Linked DNA regions of Homo sapiens. The main gene of each other region encodes a partner of the protein of the gene in region 2 in a complex. Each region holds a gene or a part of one and is shown on either strand. Other genes may lie near its edges. The genes, in order: LIN54 and TFDP2.

Region 1 (8,927 bases), on a different chromosome or scaffold from region 2:
GACATTCATCAAAATATTAATATTATTATATCCTTAATCCCATATATAATAATACCTTTGCATTTTATTACAATTCCTTATTTTCATGTCTTGGATATATGCATATGATGAAAACAAAATTAATAATAATGCTTAATGAAAAAATAAAACTGTGGCACAGTAATATTCTTGTTCAAAATAACAAATTACTCAATAATAAAAAGAGTAAGTAAAGAAAGTATAGTGCGAATGACAAAGCCACCTATATACACAATTACATTGGCCCTTGGATGCAAAATATAAATAAATACACATTAAAGGTAGGCTTATGACTAGATTTTCAACTTTAGATCTAAATATCAGGAGTAGATTAAGGGAGAACTAAATAAGTTAAAGCCCTAGGGTACAAAAGAGAAAAATTTGGTAGAACAGAAACTATTATAAGGGCAACAGCTCTGAAATATTATTTACTAAACTATTATGTACTACACTTTTCTTCTTTTAAAGATGGGGTCCTGGCCAGGCGCAGTGGCTCACGCCTGTAATCCCAGCACTCTGGGAGGCTGAAGCAGGCAGACACTTGAGGTCAGGAGTTCAAGACCAGCCTGGCCAACATGGTGAAACCCTGTCTCTACAAAAATACAAAAATAAGCAGGGTGTGGTGGCGCACACCTATAATCTTAGCTACTCGGGAGGCTGAGGCAGGAGAATTGCTTGAACCCGGGAGCAGAGGTTGCAGGGAGTCGAGATTGCACCACTGCACTCCAGCCTGGGTGACAGAGTGAGTGAGACTCTGTCTCAAAAAAAAAAAAAAAAAAAAAAAAAAATACTGGGTCTCATCTCGTCACCCAGACTGGAGTGCAGTGGTGCACTCATAGTTCACTGCAGCCTCAAACTCCTGGGCTACAGCAACTGTTTATTATATTTTAAATTCCTTGAAGAGAGAAACTATATTTAATTCATCTCCAATTTGAAGTTACATATTGGCACACTGTTGACCTGAATTATAATTCTCCACAAGTCAAGGAGTGTAGAGTTACCAATTTTTTATATTGCGATTATCACCATATACAAAGACACAGCTTCTTCTAAAAGTTAAAAGAAGAAATTTACCTGGGATAAAAATCAAAGAATTTTAGAGTGTGAAGAACATTAAATATTAATTATATCTTTTGGCAATGAAAATTGAGACTGTAAAAGAACTATTTATTATAGGAAATAGTGACTCAAATGAAAAAATATGACCAACATGAATAACAGAAATACACCGGAAGTTATGATAGATCACAGAACTAGACAAATATTAGCTCTTTGTGCTCAAATTATAAATTAAACTAAATAACACATCTTACACCTACAATATATTACTTTTTTATACTCAGAGCACATTACTGACAAAAACCAACTGTATATAAAATACAAATCACTTAAAAAAAAACATACCCATTATTGTATTTAAAAACGGCCGACTTGCAAAACTATAACATACTCAAATAAATCTATAATTATACTCTAGAAAGCTAATGAAATTTAGAGAAATACAAATTTCTCAAGTATGTTTACAGACTTAAAACCCTAAAGTCAGTCAAAATTGTATCTATTGTATCTATAATATTAACAATCTCTAGAGGTAGAAGTATTAATATTCTTAGAAAGCCATATTAGCAATAAATAACCTTAGCTATAACAATTATGGGCTTAAAGTATTTCCCCATTTTAAACTGATTTTTCACAATCATGAGTATATGAATACTTATCAGTAAGAAAAAAATATAAACAGTACAACCAGAAGCACATTAATTATTCAAATAAACAATCTCATCTTGCCCTTGTGGTTATGTTTCTTTAGTGGTGCTGAAAATAATAACTTTTGGTTCCATTAAGGAACTATGATTTTTTTGCACTATGAATTCTAAAGTATCCTGGAACAAAATTATTAAGTAAAACAAAGCATCAAAGATTACTTTAACAAGTTTATAGAATCAGCAGCTTAAGATAAACATGAAAAAAAACTTACAAATAAGGTAGTAAAATATGTCATCAAATAATATATACAAGTAATTTTTGGCACTGTGTTGGATAGATTCAGGAGCTAGTAAGGAGTTATATTGTTCCAGACTGCTAGTTATGTACTACTCTTATATACTATGCACAGGAAACATGGGAAAGTGTTTATATATCTGTTATTACATATAATTATACCTCTGTTACTGCCTCTGGCTTCAAAGGTCACCTCTTTTCTTCATTTTTCAAGATGGCCTCCATCTTCCACCGTTGCCTGCTATCTATACCCTAACAGTCTCAATACTCTGACTAAACTTAACACTGACAACTACCTAGGGGGAAAAAAACCAGAAAATCATATACTCTTTGTAATACTAAACCAAATATTCTGGTGTCAAAAAAGGAAAAAATATAGATGCATAGTTTTTAATTTGTCTTTTGTGCTTCAGAGCTTTGAGGTTACTTCTGAGATGGAAAGACTTAAGTCGCCTAAAAATAATGGATTGTACAAGTAAAAAAAATTCTAAATCTAATTCCTTTTTATTGTTTTTTTTAATAGAATTCTTTTTTATTAGATAGAAACAGGCTTTAGAAAACTAACAATAGCCCAGGTGCAGTGGCTTATGCTTGTAATCCCAGCACTTTTGAGAGGCCAAGGCAGGTGGATTGCTTGTGTCCAGGAGTTTGAGACCAGCCTGGGCTACATGGCAAAGCCCCATCTCTACAAAAAAAATACAAAAATTGGCCAGGTGTGGTGGTTTGCATCTGTAGTCCCAGCTACTTGGGAGGCTGACGTGGGAGGAGCATTTGAGCTTGGGGGGTCAAGGCTGCAGTGGAGCACCCACTGCACTCCAGACTGGGTGACAGAGAGACCTGTCTCAAAAACAAAACAAAACAAAACAGAAAAGTAACAATAAAACAAGTTATAAGAATTAGACCCCAGTCTTTTTTTTATTGTCATTACTTAGGGAGTTAAAGTAGAGAAATAATAGATACAAGCAACACTGGTCATTGAAATGTCACATATACCTTGCTCTCATAAATGAAAAAAATGACATTCTAATTTATGATATCTTTTCCTTTTTTAGTTTATTTTTATTTTTTTGAGACAGGGTTTTCCTGTAGCCCAGGCTGAGGTGCAGTGATGCGACCACAGCTCACAGCAGCCTAGACCTCCCCGGCTCAAGCGACCCTCTCACCTCAGCCTCCTGAGTACCTGGGACCGCAAGTGTGCGCCACCATGCTGGGCTAATTTTTTGTATTTTTGGTAGAAACAGGGTTTCACTATGTTGCCCAGGCTGGTCTCGAACTCCTGGCCTCACAGAATCTGCCCACCTTGGCCTCCCAAAGTGTTGGGCTTACAGGTTCGTGAGCCACCACACCTGGCATCAGTTTCTTTTGAACATAATTATGATCCATATTGCCAAAGCCAAATAAACTTTGGTAAACCAATAAAAACAAGCTTCAAAACTGAGGACAAGATGCTTGATGGTGATAAGATATCTCATCCAAGAGATTCTTGGCAAAAATAAGAAGTAAAAGGAAGTCATAGATAAGTGAGAAGTAATAATGAACAAGAAAGAGCACTAAATGTTTAATAATGGCAAAGGGGACAGAGGCAAATTATAAGATTTAAGAAATTCTACAAAGTTCTTAAATGCAAAGCCCATGAAAAGTGGTTTCTAATTCTACTGTCAAAACAGTAACCAAAACATTACTCTAATATCAGCTGAGTGTAGTCTCCCAAAACCTTCCTACTTCCTTCTTATGCATTTCCTATTATTTCTATGCATTCAAAGACAACTCTTTCAAACAGAGGATACATTTTTGTTTCCTGGTCATAAGTATATCACTGCATTTCTTGTTTTTTTTTTTTTTTTTGAGATGGAGTTTCGCTCTTGTCACCCAGGCTGGAGTGCAATGGCGCGATCTCGGCTCACTGCAACCTCTGCCTCCCGGGTTCAACCGATTCTCCTGTCTCAGCCTCCTGAGTAGCTGGGATTATAGGCACTCGCCACCATGCCTGGCTAATTTTTTGTATTTTTAGTAGAGATGAGGTTTCACCATGTTGGGCAGGCTAGTCTCAAACTCCTGACCTCAGGTGATCCGCCCACCTCAGCCTGCCAAAGTGCTGGGTGGGATTACAGGCTTAAGCCACCACGCCCCGCCGATCACTGCATTTCCAAGAGTAGTGGTGGCCTAAGAAAGCCTATTTGGGCATGATAAACTGGAAATCACTTAATATATATTCCAGTAACCTTCTTTCTTAGGGTCCTATTCATACTAATAATAGGTACCATTATGAAACATCCTCAATATTTTGAGAATTATACTACACATTTCATCTTGATCAAAAAGTATTCTTAAGATAAAGTCAAAAACTCAGAGAAGATAAGTAACCTACGAAAGTTTTCCATAACTGGTAGGATAAGATAGAGGCAACTCAAGCCCAGTTGGTACAACTCTAAAGCCTGTATGTTATCTTCCATCACATGTCACTGTCTTTTCCATAGTACAAACATGAATAATGGCAATGAACAGTAAACTCCAAATAAAAGGCACACGCTGGCTGACACGCACTATTACTGGCTCTGAGGGTTTCTCAGAGCAACAAAGTTCTCCTAGCCTTTGGCCATCTGTGAACTGAAAAAAAAAAATGTTGTCTACATGATTTTTTTGATAGCCCAGCAGCAAGTCTGGCATATTTATACCAGCAAAACATCCTTGTAATCAAACTACCACTAAGAATAAAATGCATTTTAAAATTAGTAAAAGGCTATAAATATACTAATTTGGAATTTAACCAAAATTAAGTTTGCTTTCTAAGTTATCTGGTAAAAATTTTCATAAGCATTAGACATATCAAACTTAAAAACACACACACACAATTACATAAAACAACATTCAAAAGAATTCAGTAACAACTATGTATTTAGTAACCCTATAAACACAACTATGAATCAGTTAAATTTTTTTAAACATGCATTTTAATTAGTAAGCCCCCTTTTTTCTTTTACCTGTACTGTTTTTAACTGTTGGGTCTGTAACACAGAGGGCTGAGTTGTAGTATTAATCAGTTGACTTCCTGGGGTCAATGCTGAGACACCAATGACAGGTTTCACCTCTGGCCTCCCTCCAATGGTAACTACTTTAATTTGCTGCGGTGGTAACTTAGCATCTCCTGACTGGGCCTGAGTTGTAACTTTCTGAGCCTGGGGTAGTTGGCTATGGGGTAGTGCTAAAACAATTGGTGAACCAGACTTGCCCAAAGTTGTTAAAATTAACTTCTGTCCATCTGGTTTAAGGGTCTGATTGCCAAGTTTAAGATCAGATGTCTGTGATACTTTGTTTAAAATAATCTGATTGGCTGATATAGTCACAGGAGTCTGAGCACCAAGTTTTTGAAGGCCACTTGGAAAAGCTGGTTTCACTGTGGTATTAGAATCTGCTTTAGTAATTGTGGTATTCACTGCAACTTGGTTAGTGTGGTTACTGTACACTGTGATTGGTTCCGTGGAAATGGGCGTGGCTGTAGAGTCACCAGTAGAATTTATGTTGACAATTTCTTCCAGTTCTGTCTCCATGGGAATTGGGGATGAAACAATAACAGCCTCAATACTATCATCATCCACTAAAGTTATACCAGTGTCCATTATTTCCTCTGGAAGCAAACTATTCACCTCAGCTGGCACCACCTCCATGATCGTTCTCCCGCTAGAAAGTTGATCAGGCACTGTAATAAAAGTTGAAAAATGAACAAGTTACTAGGTTTCAAAAGATGTAAGAAAAAAATTCAAAAAAAATGCAAATGGCAAAATGACAATTTTTAAATTGATATATAATTGAATGAAGAATATTCCTGAAGCTTATCTGGGTTAAATCATGTTAACACATCCTCAACCTGCAAGAATCTATAATATAAGTCATATGGGAACACAAAACTAGAAGCAAACATTCTTACTCTCGTCTCAATCCACAAGTATCTTGCACTCAGGCAACACTAAGTCACATAATCACATGAAACTCCTTTCCAACGCCCTCTAATAAAATTTGTAATCTTTGATGTATCTGATCTTATTTCTACCCAGATTTTTTTCCTCTCATTGACAGACTTGAAAACTGCTGATTCACACAAGGAAATAAAGATTTAAATATTAACATATTGTAAAATACATTCAAATCTCCAATGAGCTACGTCCTAATATGAGTGTACTATCCCATTTTAAAAATCCATTAAATACCCAAATTAAAGTTAAAGGAGTTTCTAGAGTAATACATCTCAGCAATTGCAGATCAAATAGCATTTGTGGTACAACTTTGACCAACTAGCTTCATACCAGGGAAATTTTTATTTGGAAAGAAGATTCTCAAACCCTCCTTGGCCATTTACTTACTTACTTAATTAATTAATTATTGAGACGGAGTCTCACTCTGTTGCCAAGGCTGAAGTGCAGTGGCACAATCTCAGCTCACTGCAACCTCCGCTTCCTGGGTTCAAGCAATTCTCCTGCCTCAGCCTCCTGAGTAGCTGGAATTACAGGCGCCTGCCACCAAGCCGGGCTAATTTTTGTACTTTTAGTAGAGACAGGGTTTTGCCATGTTGGCCAGGCTGGTCTCGAACTCCTAACCTCGGGTGATCCACCTGCCTCGGCCTCCCAAAGTACTGGGATTACAGGCGTGAGCCACCGTGCCTGGCCATCCTCCGCCATTTAAAGTGTCAAAAAGAACCATTTAAGAGATGTACAGCCAATCCCCATGAAGAAAAAAAGTAATAATCATAAAGCAGATTACGAAAAACTTTGAGCTGTGGTACTTTTAGCCAAAGGTCTGTAGAACTTCCAATAAAGGAATCAATTTTATTATCTTCATGTATAAAAGACAGCACATCATGTTTATGACAGACTAAATAGCAGTGAGTTATTTGCCCAGAGAACATCAAAGATCCATAGGAACCAAATCAGCAACTTTCTTCTCTTCCTTTTCGTTTTTGAGACAGAGTCTCGCTCTTGTTACCCAGGCTGGAGTGCAGTGGCGCAATCTCGGCTCACCGCAACCTCCACCTCCCAGGTTCAAGCGATTCTCCTGCCTCAGCCTCCCAAGTAGCTGGGATTACAGGCATGTGCCACCACGCCCAGCTAATTTTTTGTATTTTTAGTAGAGACAAGGTTTCTCCATGTTGGTCAGGCTGGTCTCAAACTCCCAACCTCAGGTGATCTGCCCACGCTGGCCTCCCAAAGTGCTGGGATTATAGGTGTGAGCCACCATGCCCGGCCCCCTTTTTTTAAATATAAAAATACACCACCCCGGCTGGGCATTCTGGCAGATCACGAGGTAGGCAGATCACAAGGTCAAGAGATGGAGACGATCCTGGCCAACATGGTGAAACCCCGTCTCAACTAAAAATACAAAAATTAGCTGGGCATGGTGGCATGCACCTATAGTCCCAGCTACTCAGGAGGCTGAGGCAGAAGAATCACTTGAACCTGGGAGGCAGAGGTTGCAATGAGCCGAGATCGTGCCACTGCACTTGAGCCGGGCGACAGAGCGAGACCCCATCTCAAAAAAAAAAAAAAAAAAAAAAAAGATACAACACCCATCCAAAATTAACACACAAGTAGCAAATTACAACTATTAGCATTGGCAAATACTACTACCACCAAAATAAACCATCATTATTGAGTGCTTACAACACTGATGACGTAATTTAATTTATCCTCACAACAACTCAGAAATGGGAATCATCATTATCCCTGTTTTATAGATGAGGCCATTTAGAAAGGTTAATTTGCCTAAGGTCACATAGCTAGTAAATGGTAGAGCCAGGACTCCAGCTCAGGTTTTTAATATGCCACAGTTAATTATCTTGGCTGGGCACACTGGCTCTTACCTGTAATCCCAGCACTTTGGGAGGCCGAGGTGGGCAGATCACCTGAGGTCAGGTGTTCGAGACCAGCCTGGCCAACATGGCAAAACCCCATCTCTACTAAAAATACAAAAATTAGCTAGGCGTGGTGGTGGGTGCTTGTAATTCCAGCTACTCAGAAGGCTGAAGCACAATAATCGCTTGAAGCCGGGAGGCGGAGGTTGCAGTGAGCCAAGATCGTGCCACTGCACTCCAGCCTGGGCAACAGAGTGAGACTTTGTCTCAAAAATTTTTTTAAAAAGATGCCACAGTTAATAACCTTAATCCCAAAATTATACTCCCTTAAATGTTGCCATTGGTGTTTTAAAACAGGGAAAAAATAAGTCTACTTTTCTAAGAAAAAAACAAAAAACAAAAAACAAACGGGATACATGTGCAGAACATGCAGGTTTGTTACACAGGTATACGTGTGCCATGGTGGTTTGCTACACCTGTTGACCCCACCTCTAAGTTCCCTCCCCTTGACCCCAACCCCCCACCAGAACATAATGTGTGTTGTTCCCCTCTCTGTGTCCATGTGTTCTCAATTCTTCAACTCCCACTTATAAGTGAGAACATGCAGTGTTTGGTTTTCTGTTCCTGTGTTAGTTTGCTGAGAATGATGGCTTCCAGTTTCATCCATGTCTCTGCAGAGGACATGATCTCATTCCTTTTTATGGCTGCATAGTATTCCATGGTGTATAAGTGCCAAATTTTATTTATCCAGTCTATCACTGATGGGCATTTGGGTTGGTTCCATGTCTTTGCTATTGTAAATAGTGCTGCAATAAACATATGTGTGCATGTGTCTTTATAGTAGAATGATTTATATTCCTTTGGGTACATACCCAGTAATGGGACTGATGGGCCAAATGGTATTTCTGGTTCTATATCCTTGAGGAATCACCATACTGTCTTCCACCGTGGTTGAACTAATTCACATTGTCATGAACAATGTAAAAGCATTCCTATTTCTCCACAGCCTTGCCAGCATCTATTGTTTCCTGACTTTTTAATAATCGCCACTCTGACTGGCATGAGA
Region 2 (8,927 bases):
CGCCCTACCCACTGAGGGCCAGGCACGCAGGTCCTAGTGCCACTGTGCGTGTGCTAAGTAGAGCCAGCACTTCCTCCATGAATGACGCCACACGCCTGAAAGGGGGACAGCCACACCCTCAAGGGGAAAAGGCCTCTTGAACTCCCCACAATCAGTGTGTGCCAGCAGCCCTGGGAGGAGTGATCTGTGTGTGGCAAGTAACCCAGCGTGCCACTATAACAAAGAAGCCTGGGCATTGTGACCACAACTTCCATTTTTTTTTTTTTTTTTTTTGAGACAGGGTCTTGCTCTGTCACCCAGGCTGGAGTGCAGTGGTGTGATCTTGGCTCTACAACCTCCGCCTCCTGCGCTCAAGCAATCCTCCCACCTCAGCCTCTTGAGTAGCCAGGACTACAGGCATGCCCCACCACACCCAGCTAATTTTTGTATTTTTGTAGAGACAGGGTTTTGTCATGTTGCCCAGGCTGGTCTTGAACTCCTGAGCTCAAGCAATGTGCCCGCCTCGGCCTCCCAAAGTGCTACGATTACAGGCGAGAGGCACTGCACCCAGCCCATGGTTTCCTAACACTGCCTCACTTTGATCTTGTGTGAAATTGTGACTCAGTGCTGAGCTTTAGACCCAGATAAATGTTGAGGGGGAATACAGAAGAGAATTGACCTTTCTGAACAGCTCAACCTAGTTTCTAAAGGCAAGATTTTACTCCAGCGACATGTACTGGTGACCATGATGTCACTCTGTGAGCTGGCCTCACCAGTAACCCAAACACAACGCTGAGGAAGGAGACCATTTCCCACCAACAGCACACACCTATGGCTGGGGTGGCCAATGATGGGGCACCAATAAGGATAAGAGTCTTTGGCGGCTTTCTTTTTTTGAGCCCATATTTTATCAATTTAAAGCATGAGAGCAGCAGAGATGGAGAGTAGAGAAAAAAACAGGTTTCCCAAGAACTCTGGCAAGAATGTTGCTACTTGGTGAAGGAATGGTTATCATTAGTGCACCTGTCTTAAATCCTGAAATGCATCTTGGGACCTGCAGTTCAATATTTTGAAGACTACAAAGGTAGCAGTGGCTGTTGGCCTCTCCAGGTCCCTGCTGGGTCCCAGAGATGAGAAAGGGTGGAGTTAGTAAAAGAGGAGGCTGCCCCTTAAAGGACAGTTTGGTTTGGAGGGAAATCCCAATCCGTGCAGCTGAAAGATTCCCTGCAGGCCCCTGGGGACCTGCTGTCACCTCCCCAGTGTTCCTGACTGGTCTGAGAGGTGTGCTCCAGAACCCACGATAAGACCGAGTTCTCTAGAAACTGCCTCTATCTCTGAGTCTGTACTATGGCTTATTTCTGACAGAATGAAACTTTTGTATCAAAGGAGCTTCAGCTAAAGTTGAATGTTTTTCTTTCTCAGTTTTTATGGCCTTATTAAACATGTTTAGCTAGCCAAAGCTTCCTCCTCCTCACCATGCTCAGTGTTAGCATGGTGGTGAGGCTATAAAGAGGCACCACAGGAAGGAGCCTGCACTTCCCCCATGGGATTTAAAAAAGAACCAATTTGGGCCATGCTTGGTGCATCTAGCATAATCTTGGGACAAATCCACATGATTCAGGTCAAAGTTTTGGAGTTAATTCTCCCATTATTATTTGCTCCTTTCCAAAGCCTTAATGTGAAATTCAGTCAGGGTCTGGCCATGGTGGCAGGTGTCCCTACACTCTTTCATTCAGAGAAGGAGCAGCTGTGAATACACCACTGCAGTATTTCTAATGACATCTTGAGCCATAAACAACATAACTGCACTACCATATATCCAGGCAGTAGGAGTGTTCAACGTTTTCTAGTGTTTCTGTGAAACACTAAATATTGGATTAGTTTGAAATGCAATTGACCCCAGGAGTAGGCTCAATAAGGTCATTCTGATTAATGAAAATGTGAAAAAAGGTGACATGTACAAGGAAACACTGCTGTTCATATTCTTGAAATAGACTTTTCTTTAAGACAAAAGTAATGACATTTGGTTCATTTTCACAAATTGCACACTGGGTGAGATCATACAATTACTGCAGGGAACTGTAGGCAAGCAATTTGGTCATAGGAATTTGTTTCTTTGTCTTGTTTTAAATGAAAAAGCTATATGAAATGCATAGCTTTGATTAACCTAAAGATACAGTTTCCTTCTTTGTAAAACTCCAGATTTAGGATGCTGGCAAAGGCAGTGCTGGCAAAGTATTTAATGCACATGGAAATGCTATTCTATTTTGGCTTCCAGAAGTAGCCCTAGTAAATTCTATGCACCAATGCATTGGCTAATAATAATTTCAGTTTTACTATAAATTATCTAAATGTCACTTAAGTACTTAAGAAGTAGCGCTCGCTCCTTTCTAGAAGCTGTCTAAGGCAGCTGATGCGTAAAGCACCTCATCTAGACCTCCAACTAGTTCAGCAGTTCAATCTGTGCCCCTCAGCCACAGGACTGCCCTCAGTATCCCTCACTACACAGCTCCCCTCTCCTGGGGACTTTTCATGTTCATTTCTGCCTTGTCAAAGGCAGTCCAGGCAAGGAAGAGAAACGTCAGAAACACGATCGTCAAGGACTGCTCCGTGTAGCAATCTCAATTCTAAGAATAATTACATGGGTGTGAGGAACACAAAAATCCCACCTCACAGAAGATAAATGAGTTGCACTCACACTGCCAACTCTTCAGGGATTATCCCCACTATCTCCTCAGAAAGCATGCTTTCTTTGTTATATCATCTACTGCTCTGTTGGCCAGACTTTCATTCACACTATGTTAACTTTCATCTCAATCATCTCAGCCTTCATGTGATTTGCTTATTGTGTTTCTCTAGTTTTCACTGAACACACAGTGCAAACAAAGGCAAAGACTGAAGCAATCATTTCAAAAACAAGAGCTCACACTACAAACACACATGAGCATCACATATTGAAACGTAGGCTTTCTCTTGTCTTTATTCTGGGGAGGAGGAATCCTCCTCATCATCTTCCTCATCTTCATCATTGAACGAACAGGGGGTCTCGCCTCGGGACTCGGAGCAGTGAGAGGCCGCACTGCTGGACTGGTGACTGTTTGGGGCCAGGAACTGCCCAGTTGCTAAGGCCACTTCTGCATCCAAGCATAACCCTTGGTTTACACTAGCAAACAATTAAAAACACACAGGCTCATTAATGTGGTATAAACAGTTTTGTAAAACATAGGAATAAAAACAGGAAGGAGGTGCCATTGGTGAGATCTGCCACAAACCTGCTCAGCAGGACCTGTGCTGGCAGTAACATGACCCCGGCTCACCCCTACACAGACAGTCAGGGCTCTGGGGTTTGCCTTTCTAACCCTGAAAAAAATACGTACCTTGACTGGGGTAAGGTGGCACCAGTGGTCAGGTCTAAATTTGAAACTGATTGGGTAGAGTTCAGAAGTAGTCCCTGATTTAACCAAGAAGGTCCTGTGGAGATATCTAAAGGAAAAAATGAGAACAAAAAATGTCGGTCCTGCAAGTTCTGTGGCTGCTGTTGTTACAGTCTGAGGAAAGCACAGAAAAGCAAGAGCTAAGCTTATTCTTCATGACAGCTAGACAATTCTCTTGCTGTGACAAGAACCCAGGTTTCTTCATCTTCTTGGAAGAAAAAAAAATTTCTAGAACATAAGAGCAGGAAAAAAAAAATACGGGAAGGCAGCTTACGGAGAGAAGGTATTCAAATGAAAACACTCAAAGGCACTTTCTTACTCTTTTTCTTAGATAAGCCCTCCAGAGCACAGCCCATGGGATACATCCCAGTGTACCACCCTCAATGCCTTCTGCCCTCAGCACAAAAGACCTGGACTGTGGTGTTGAGAGCCAAAGCCAGAAGTGGGAAAAGAGAAAATCAAATCAGAAATACATGAGGTAAGAAGGCCACCCTGCTTAGAGGGCAGACAGACATGTTTTGGCCAAAACCCCCGCCGCAATGTCTTTTCAGGTGCCTGCTGCTGGTGAACTCAATGCTGCTACTCATCAAATATCTATTCTTTTTCCTGACAAGATTTTTCCTGGTGTCTGTTGCTTTCTAATTCAAACTAGCTCTTATTTTATTTTTTTTATTATTATTATACTTTAAGTTTTAGGGTACATGTGCACAATGTGCAGGTTAGTTACATATGTATACATGTGCCATGCTGGTGTGCTGCACCGATTAACTCGTCATTTAGCATTAGGTATATCTCCTAATGCTATCCCTCCCCCCTCCCCCCACCCCACAACTAGCTCTTATTTTAAAAAGGTCACATGCAGTCATGTTTTTAATGAGGCAGACACAGACGTTACTGTTTTAGTCTACAGAAAATAGTTTGGGCTGAGCACGGTGGCTCACGCCTATAATCCCAGCATTTTGGGAGGCCAAGGAGGGCGGATCACCTGAAGTTGGGAGTTCTGTCCAACATGGAGAAACCCCATCTCTATTAAAAATACAAAATTAGCTGGGCGTTGTGGTGCATGCCTGTAATCCTAGCTACTCGGGAGGCTGAGGCAGGAGAATCACTTGAACCCGGGAGGCGGAGGTTGCAGTGAGCTGAGATTGCACCACTGCACTCCAGCCTGGGCAACAAGAGCGAAACTCCATCTCAAAAAATAAAAGAAAAAAAGAAAAGAAAATATTTTGGATATCTCCTTGCCATCTTCTTTTCTATACATATACCACATTTATCCTATGACAACACTGATCAATTCTTATTGTAATTTTACTGGTTTAATACTTTTTATCTTCCCATCTACAGTGTTAGCTCAAAGAAGGCAGTAACTGGAACATGTAAGATCTAAATGTGGCGGGGCGCGGTGGCTCATGCCTGTAATCCCAGCACTTTGGGAGGCCAAGGCGGGCAGATTGAGCTCAGGAGTTCGAGACCAGCCTGGCAAATATAGCAAAGCCCCATCTCTATTAAAAATACAAAAATTAGCCAGGCATGGTGATACATGCCTGTAATCCCAGCTACTAGAGAGACTGAGGCAGGAGAATCACTTGAACCCAGGAGGCGGAGGTTGCAGTGAGCTGAGATCGTGCCACTGCACTCCAGCCTGAGTGACTGTCTCAAAAAAAACAAAAAAAAACAAAAAAACAAAAAAGTTACTGAATGAATGAGTATAGTCTCTGTCAGCTGCCACTTTACAAAATAAGTGGTAGATACATTAAAAGTAATTCCTAAAAAGAAATTCTATAAGCCCAAACACATACTCAGAAAATGTAATCTGCCAAAATGAGCTATGATTTAATTGAATCAAAATCTTTTTGCAATTACTATACAAAAAAATGAAACTATATGATTTAGATTGGAAACTCTGGTATCCAAACAAGAGGCCATTCCCACGTAGGAAAAAAGTAAACTAAATGACTATGCTAATTTTAGAACCGTCTTATGAACCTTTTTCTTTGAGACAGCTGGGAAAAAAAAGAGACTTCAAGTCTAAGAAGAATAGCAGACTTTAAATACATTAAATAACGACAAGTCTGTACAAGAAAATAAAATTAAAGCCAGAATCTTGTGCTGAATATTAATTAGTATATAGAACTATAGAAACCTTCTGTCAGAACACAGCTATTTACTTGTTTGTGAGCATAACACATTACATTCTCTTTTTACAATGAATTGGAAAAGCCTACATTTCTTTCCTATTATCACAGGATCCACACAATGGTTCTCACACTCCCACCCAGGCCATTCTGCCCCTTTACACACGAGAGGCACATGTTTCTTCCTTTGAACTAACCAGAAAGTCTGTATCCCAGTCTGCAAATGAGGTCACGAAGAGATCAAAACCACAGAGCCTGCCTAATCGCCCTGAGCCTTTTCACTGGGAGTAAGCTAAAATAAAGTTCTGGTGATTTATTGAGTAAGCCCTTTATTCAGATTCTGCTGGCCTTCCAATGACACAGCAGGACCCAGGCTGGAGAGCGTGGAGAGAGGAAAGCTGGGTGGGGAGACGGAACAGGTGGGCTGAGGGGCAAGGAGAGGCGGGGGGCCCTTGCAGGGGATGAATGGTGCCAACCGAAGAACTAAAACAGAAACCAAATCTCAGCCAACAAACTCTTCTGTTGTGAGCAAAGGACCAAATCATAGAATAAAACAAAATTAAAGCTACCTTTTTGCTTACATTGGATTTAATGTATCTTAGACCTAGTATTAAAATGCCTTTAAAAAGCGATGTGAAATTCTAGATGGTTATACTTACAAATAAAATAAACAAAAGAAAGCAAAGGCAAAAACACTGCTTATATATTCATTTCTTTTTTTAAAAGACAGAGTCTCGCTCTGTTGCCCAGGCTGGAGTGCAGTGGTGCAATCTCCGTTCACTGCAACCTCTGCCTCCCAGGTTCAAGTGATTTTCCTGCCCCAGCCTCTCAAATAACTGGAATTACAGGCATGTGTCACCATGCCTGGCTAATTTTTGTATTTTTAGTAGAGATGGGGTTTTGCCATGTTGGTCAGCCTGGTCTTGAACTCCTAACCTCAAGTGATATGCCTGCCTCAGCCTCCCAAAGTGCTGGGATCACAGGCGTAAGCCACCGCACCCAACCTATATAGTCAAATTGTATCTACAAAATATGTAATATTTTCAGGAATTAGGAAAATCAGGAAGATTTCTAAATTAGTGAAAAAAATCTTAATTATAGGACATGTAAAACATAGTGCTTCTGTTTTCAAGTATACTCAGTATAACTTTACAACTCTATAAAAAGACAAGTAACTCTACTTAAAAATGAGCAAAGGATGGACTGTGGGAGGCCGAAGCGGGTGGATCACCTGAGGTCAGGAGTTCGAGACCAGCCTGGCCAACGTGGTGAAACCCTGTCTCTACTAAAAATACAAAAATTAGCTGGGCGTGGTGGTGGGCGCCTGTAATTCCAGCTACTTGGGAGGCTGAGACAGGAGAATCGCCTGAACCCGGGAGGTGGAGCTTGCAGTGAGCTGAGACTGCACCATTGCACTCCAGCCTGGGTAACAGAGAGAGACTCCATCTCAAAAAAAAAGTCAATGTGAATAGACATATTTCTGAGGAAGACATACAAATAGTCAATAAACACATGAAAAGATGCTCAACATCAGAAGTCATTATGGAAATGCAAATCAAAATCACAGTGGGAGCCAAGGCAGGTGGATCGCTTGAGCTCAGAACTTTGAGACTAGCCTGGACAACATGGCAAAACCCCATCTCTACCAAACATATCAAAAAAAAAAAAAAGATTTAACCGGGCATGGTGGCACACATCTGTGGTCCCAGCTACTCAGGAGGCTGAGGTGGGTGGATCGTTTGAGCCCATGAGTTCGAGGCTGCAGTGAGCAGAGATTGCGCCACTGCACTCCAGCCTGGAGAGCAAGACTCTCTCCCCTCCACCACCACCCTGCCCCACCCCCCCCACAAAAATCACAGCGAGATATCACTTCACTTCTGTGAGGATGGCTATAATTCAAAAGATGTATAGTGACAAGTGTAGAAAAGGATATGGAGGGCAGGCACGGTGGCTCACATGTATAATCCCAACACTTTGGGAGGCTGAGGCAGGTGAATTCAGGCCAAGAGTTCCAGATCAGCCTGGCCAACATGGTGAAATCCTGTCTCTACTAAAAATACCAAAACTAACCGGGCATAGCGGCAAGGTGCCTGTAATCCCAGCTACTCAGGAGGCTGAGGCAGGAGAATCACTTGAACCTGGGAGGTGGAGGTTGCAGTGAGCCAAATTACGTCACCGCACTCCAGCTTGGGCGACAGAGTGAGACTCCGTCTCTAAATAAGTAAGTAAGGATGTGGAGAAATTGGAACACTTATCCACTGGTTGGACTGTAAATGGTACAGGAGCTTTGGAAAACAGTTTGGTATTTCCTTAAAATGTTAAACACAGAGTTACCATATGACCCAGCAATTTCACTCGTAGGTATATGTTTTTAGAGATAAAAACATATGTTTACACATAAACTTTTATAAGAATGTTAACAGCAGCATCATTCGAGATAGCCAAAAAGTGGAAACAGTCCAAATATCTACCAACTGATGAATGGATAAACAAAATGTGGTCCATCCATACAATGGAATAGTATTTGGCAATAAAGAGGAATGAAATACTGATGGTGCTACAACATGAACGAACCTTGAAACACTACACTAAGTGAAAGAAGCTATCCACAAAATGCCCCATGCTGTAGGGTTCCATTCACATAAAGCGTCTTTCTAGAATAGGCAAATCCATAGTGACACAAAGTAGATTAGTGGTTGCCAGGGGCTGAGGGAGAATGGGGGAATAGAGACTGTTAATGGGTTTGGGTTTCTTTTTGGGTTTTTAAATTAAAATATTCTGGAATCAGATAGTGGTGATGATTAGCAACCTTGTGAATATACCAAAACATCACTGAACTGACATTTTTAAATGGTGTATTTTATGGCATGTGAATTCAATCTCAATTTAGAAAAGCTACAATGGTATCATTTCAGACCCACCTGATTAGGAAAATAGAACACTTCTACTCTGCTGGGGAACGTGTAATTTGGTAAAATCAAATTGAAAATTTTTGGTATCATCTAGTAAAGCTGAAGATGTACCCAACTCTGACCTAACAAGTTCAATCTGTACGTTTGCATGTGGTCACTGGGATACATGTATAGGAATGTTCAAAGCAGCACTGTATTTTAACATCAAGCAATCGGAAACAAACAGTTTATTTTCAGTAAAATAAACAGATAAGCTGTGATGTATTCATATAATGGAATTTTACACAGGAGTAAGAATGTATGAATTATATCTATATTAAATCACATGGATGACTCTAAAGAACATAATATCGAGTGAAAAAAAATCAAATCACCAAAGAGTATATTACTATGACTTCACTTATATAGAGGCCAGAAGTAGGCAAAACTAAATAATACATTATTTCCAGTTTACCATTTTGGTTTAT

Evidence for each region.
Region 1: TFDP2 (region 2) and LIN54 share a complex: the UniProt entries of both Homo sapiens proteins name them as parts of the DREAM complex.

What each region holds. Positions count from the first base shown.
Region 1 is NC_000004.12:82,979,161-82,988,087, forward strand, and holds part of LIN54 (protein lin-54 homolog), read right to left. Parts: intron 5,717-8,927; 5' UTR 5,685-5,716; coding exon 5,001-5,684; intron 1-5,000. UniProt on the Homo sapiens protein: Component of the DREAM complex, a multiprotein complex that can both act as a transcription activator or repressor depending on the context. In G0 phase, the complex binds to more than 800 promoters and is required for repression of E2F target genes.
Region 2 is NC_000003.12:141,949,555-141,958,481, forward strand, and holds part of TFDP2 (transcription factor Dp-2), read right to left. Parts: intron 3,463-8,927; coding exon 3,357-3,462; intron 3,143-3,356; coding exon 2,959-3,142; 3' UTR 1-2,958. UniProt on the Homo sapiens protein: Can stimulate E2F-dependent transcription.